Regions from separate parts of the Homo sapiens genome. Here region 1 is linked to region 2. The links come from fine-mapping of genetic effects on gene expression. A gene starts in region 2. The other region holds a variant in brackets. All regions are shown on one strand. Distances are from middle to middle.

The links. PIP is the estimated chance that this variant, and not a neighbour inherited with it, causes the effect. A credible set is the group of variants that fine-mapping cannot tell apart.
Region 1: its variant is the best candidate, but not a certain one, in a credible set for the expression of CHIT1 in whole blood (INTERVAL, PIP 0.84).

What each region holds. Positions count from the first base shown.
Region 1 is chr1:203,207,395-203,210,306 of GRCh38, forward strand. No RefSeq gene overlaps it. Among named protein-coding and RNA genes, the nearest start is that of CHIT1, 21 kb to the right of the region's middle. The variant G/GA (reference allele first, on the strand shown) is at 1,092.
Region 2 is chr1:203,228,338-203,231,249 of GRCh38, forward strand. It overlaps CHIT1 (chitinase 1), which reads right to left and starts at 1,336. Exons shown (of 11, transcript NM_003465.3): 1 at 1,275-1,336; 2 at 196-225. The coding sequence starts at 1,299.

The DNA of each region.
Region 1 (2,912 bases), 21 kb before region 2:
TACAGGAATTGGAAGGGAAGCACAGAAACCGGGAGATTGGTTACAACTTGGCGTTTGCCTTATTTGAATGTAGTTTGAACATTCAGCAGCATATCAGTAATTGAAGTATGGCTGCTGGGATTGGCCAACACTCAGCTATTGTTACAGGTGCACACTACTAAGTTAGGTTTTCAATTTTGTCTGACTATTAAGCTAGGTTACAGTTCATCCACAAGGACCCAAATATGGAAGTATGGAGTCCTTCTCAGGCCGTAGTTAGTTTGCTTTAACACAATGTAGGGAAAGGCTGTACCTGTGGGAGGGGACATGGAGCCAGGGGAGAAGAAAGAAGGAGGGAAGAATGGAGGGAGCAGGTTTATTGAGCCTGGATCCTCTGGAGATCCCTGGGGGAATCTGTGGATTCCTTCAGTGAGAGAAGTGAGGGCAGTGCCTCAAGATGAACAACCTCCCCAGAAGGTTCTTAATTATTCGTGGCACTTTCAACAATCTGGTGTCACTCAGCGACTTCTGGGAAAACCACAGGTTTATGGCATCTGCTCTATCCCTCTCCAGGGACACTTAAGAGGGACAGATGGGAGGGAGAGAGCACTAGCCACTACCTTGATTTTATGTCAAATAAGGGCTCTTGCACAGGAAACAGAGATGCTGAGTTCTGAGTAAGACAAAAGCAAGCTCTAATGCCACTTCCTACCACCCTCAGTACCATTTGGGGAGAAAGAGGAGGATCTTGGCCTAAGAAGGGACAGAGAGTTTCAGCTTTCTACCTACTAGAGGGAAAATAGAAAATGCAATAGCCCTGTAGCCAACAAAGACACTAAATCAGTGGTTAAAAATTATCCTTAAAAAAAGCATCGAGCTGATGGCTTTACTGGTGACTGCTACCAAATGTTCAAGGAGCAGATAAGTCCTTTTAACACATCTATCAAAAAATAGAATGAGGGGACCTTCCCAGCTTGATATCCCAGAATCTTGATACCCCAGATCAGTTTATTATTGGCCTGGACAACAGCTGGAGGTGGTGAGGACTTCCTAGAGTGTAAGAAAGAAAACATGCAGGTCCATCTTACTCACTAACATATGTGTGAAAATGT[G/GA]AAAAAAAAAAACTAATCCAGCAAATTACAAAAAAAAATTAATATAGCATGACCAAGCTGGCTCAATCCTAGAAATGTAAGATGAATTTAACAGGGGAAAATGAATATGATTTATTACCAGAATAAAAGCAAAAATTTATAAATGGAAAACCATATGACAAAACTTACATCCATTCTCATAAAAACTCCTGGCAAATTAGGAGTAGAAGGACTTCTTTAGTCTTGTTAAAGGCATCTATGCAAAACCTACAATAAATGGCATATTTAACACTGAAATATTGAAAGCATCCTCTTTCAGGCCAAGAACAAGACAAAAATGTCCATTATCACTGCTTACACTCACCACTGTACTGGATGTCTTAGAGCAGTTTGCAAGACAAATAAACAAAAGTTATATGGTTTAGAATGGAAGAAACAAAACTTATTTCTGCAGATGATATGACATGACTACCTACATAGAATGCTGTGCAGAATTTGCAGAACAATAATCATCAAACTTAATCAGAGAGTTAGAAAAGTTGCTGGATACAACATCAACATACAAAAGTGGCATTACCATACACCAACAACAGTTGGTTAGAAAATTTAATTTTTACCATGGATAAAATTTATAACCGTAATCAAAAATTTAAAATACCTAGGAATAAATCTAATAAAAGATGTATGAGACCTTTAAGAAAAAATTTATAAAATTTTATCAAAATATATTTAAGAAGACAACTAGGGCCAGGCACAGTGGCTCACACTTGTAATCCCAGTACTTTGGGAAGCTGAGGCCAGGAGTTCGAGACCAGCCTGGGCAACATAGGGAGACCCTGCCTCTATTATAAATAGAAAACATTAAAAAAAGCAGTAGAAGACAACTAAACAGATATACCATGTTTTTAGATAAGGAGACTTAATATCATACAGATGCCAATTCTTCTCAATCTATAGATTCAGTGCAATTATAATCAAAACCTGGACAGAATTTTTAATGGAATTTGGCAATATAATTCTAACATATACATGGAAAAGTAAGAGCTAAGAACATCCAAGACATTTCTGAAACAAAGAACACAGTATAAAGATTTGCTGTAATAAATATCAGGATTTATTATAAGGCTTTAGTAATTAAGATAGTGAGTTATTGGGGCAGCAAAAGAAAAATACACCAATGGAACAGAAAGATTCCCATGTGTGTACAGAAACATAATTTGTTTCAGGGATGGTATTGTAGGTTAGTATGAAAGGGATAGATTATTCAATAAATAGTGCTTGAATAACCAGTTATCCGTATAGAAAAAAAATTAGATACAACCTTACAGCATATTTAAATGGCAATTTCAGTAAGACTAAAGGCTTAAGTGGGAAAAAAGCTACAAAACTTTTAGAAGATAATATAGGAAAATAGCTCTTGACTTCAGACTAGAGAAAAATTTCTCAAGATACAGAAAGTAAAAACCATAAAGAATAAGATTGGTAAATCTGACTACATTAAAGGCACCTAAGGAGAATGAAAAGCCAAGCCTCAACCCAGAAGATTTAGCCAAACCTGCAGTCATGAGTGGATTTGTGTTCGGAGCATGGAAAGAACGCCTACATTTCAGTAAGAAAGATATAAACAACCCAATAGAAAAATGACAAGAGACACATTGGACTATTCACAAAAGACAAACACATATTGCTTATAGGTATAGGAAAAGATGCTGAAACTATAATGAGTAATTAGGACAATGCAAGTTGAAACTCTAACGGGATACCATTTTACATCTCTCAAACTGGTATAAAGTATGATATGGTAATGGTGAGGATGGGATACAAGAGAATTCTGCTGACGGG
Region 2 (2,912 bases):
AGCTAATGGATAAGGAGGCAAGAGCCTTCCTGGGAGGGCTGGTAGCAGATGGGGACATTTGCAGGGGTCTGAGCTTTGGAAGAGAGTCCCCACTGAAATCTGGAGCTCTTGGGGAGGTCTGGCAGGGAAGGTGTTTTGGGACATTAAGCAGAGCCCAGGGAAGGGGCTGAGGCAGCCAAGAAAGAGGCTACTTACCCCATGGGATCATCAGCAGGACCATGAAACCTGGAGCAACACAAGAGAGAAGGCCAGGGTTATGCTGCCATTCTCACCTTCCCAGGCCCCACAGCTTACGGAAGCACAGGAGGTGGTCAGGGAGGGCTGATTTCATACAAATCAAGCTTTCTCCTTTCAGAAGGGACCCAGGAGGGCACTGTGCCCATCCCTTCATGCAGACCAGACCACGGGGGTCTCTTCCTGGCCTGGGTTGGTCCTAGAAGCTGATGGAAAGTTCCATGGGCTGAGGCTGCCCCCTCTCTATACCTCAGTAAAGGGCAGTGTGGATTCAGGAAGATTGTGGAAAAACTGCTGACTTGTGAGTTATTTAGAGAGATAGTTTCTCTTTCGGAACAAGAAACAAGCCTGTTTTGGGGCTAGAAAGAATCAATCTGGAAGGGCTGCATGGAGAGAGTTCATCTCCTGGGGAGGGCCTGTGCCTCTGCTCCCATCGTTTATGGCTTCCTGTTGCCTTTCCGCTACCTGGCTGTGGTAGGCAACCACAGCCTTGGAGACCTAGGGTCTGACAGGACTCCTTCGAAGAGATCTCTTTCACCTGGTGACCTTGGACTTCTCTGTCAACCTAATAGAACCTCCATGAAAATTTGCAAGGATGCCCAGGATCTTGGCCCCAGGCTGCCCTCTTGCAGGACAGACAATATGAGGTTGGAGAAGAGGTTCTTGGCAGTGGGCGCTTCTTGGATAAGGCCAACAGGAGGGACCTAAGAACATGGGAAAGACACAAAGACCCAGTGCAGGGGCCTCATTGACTCTGGGCTTTCAGGACAGAGAGAGGAAAGTCAAGTCATCTTCAGCCTGTTGAGAAAAGCCTTCCCTTGCAACATGAAGTCTCTTGGGCTGAAAGAGCCTAAGGGGGAGCCCACAGGAAAGGTAATCAAGGGACTGCAAGCCAGGAGGCATGGAGAGGGATAAAATGACCCTCTGAAGTTCTCCTGAGTCCTCCTGCTTCCTTGCAAATGGTAGCAAGTGGTCCCTGAACATCCACATCCCCACCTCCCCACAGCTCCCGAGACCCAGCCCACTATCCGACGGCTCACCTGCCCAGGCCACAGACCGCACCATGATGCAGCTCAGCGGCAGGCTGCAGCCCATACAAACCAGCTTTCCAGGTCCTGCTCTGCTTTTATCTGGCCACCCTGTCCCACCCCAGCCAGGAGTGTTGCAATCAGGGGCACTGGGTGGGGGGGATGGGAGCAGGGTGGGGAGGGGTAAGATGTCAAGCAGCATGAATTGGGCAAACTTGACACAATGGCCTTTAGCAATTCTTGCTTTTCTGGAACAATCAGAGGGTGACTCTTAGTGTTGCCAAACAGAGGAAAGCGGGAAGTGGCCCTGAACCTCCTGATGGATGAGCATGACCCTGACTTTCTTTGTGTAGTTGGTGAGGACCATAAGCAGCCCCAGACTTAATAGGGCTTTGGAGGAAGAGAAATGACTCACGAGTCAGGCAGCTGGGTTCCAGACCAGCTCTCTTGCTTCTCCACTGCCCTCTCTCAAACTGTTTCTCCATCTAGAAGATAATGGGGTTGCAAATATAATTTACTTTTCATGATAGTAATAGTTGCATATCCATTGATGGAGAAAAATAGATAATGATAAATAGTGACTATAAGTTTGGTAATGGCTTGAAATGCCTATGTTTCTTATGAAGAATAATAATGGTGGACATTTGGGCCAGGCATGGTGGCTTACACATGTAATTCCAGCACTTTGAGAGGCCGAGGCAGGTAGATCACCTGAGATCAGGAGTTCGAGACCAGCCTAACCAACATGGAGAAACCCCATCTTTACTAAAAATACAAAATTAGCCTGGCATGGTGGCACATGCCTGTAATCCCAGTTACTCGGGAGGCTGAGGCAGGAGAATTGCTTGAACCCAGGAGGCGGAGGTTGTGGTGAGCCGAGATCGCGCCACTGCACTCCAGCCTGGGCAACAAGAGTGAAACTCCATCAAAAAAAAAAAAACAAAAAAAAAAAAACAGAAGAATGGTGGACATTTGTGTCGGTTTCCCAGAGCTTCTGTAACAAATGGCCACCAAACAGGTGATTTGAAACAACAGAAGTTTATTCTTTCACAGTTCTGGAGGTCAGAAGCCTGGAAACAAGGAGTTGGCAGGGCCATGCTTCCTCCGAAGGCTCCAGGGGCGAATACTTCCCAGCAGCTTCCAGCTTCGGATGGCCTGTGGCATTCCTGGGCATGCAACGGCATCGTTCCAGCCTCTGCCTGCCTCCATTTTTACACGCCCTTCCTCGCTGTGTCTCTGTATGTCCCCTCCTTTCTGTCTCTGAGAAGGACATTCTAATCCAAGATGATCTCATCTTGAGATCTTTACCTTCATTACATTTGCAAAGACCCCTATTACAAATACAGTCACCTTCTGAGATTCCAGGTGAAGTTATCCTTTGCGGGGGGTGGGAGGGGGTCACCATTCAATTCACCACAGGACCCAAGTGGGCACATATTACTGTAATGTCTGCAGACAATGTCTGGTGTATGCATGAACTCCAGGGTCCCTGAGAAAGCTCTGCAGTTTCTAGGGGATCCAGTCTTTGGCCGGTGGGCTTAACATGAATGGCCTAGATGGCCACGTGGGAATATTGGGTGCGGCAGGCTGTGGAGTTAGGTTCCTGAGTTTGAATTCCTCCTCTGCCATTTACTATCTGTGTAAACTGAA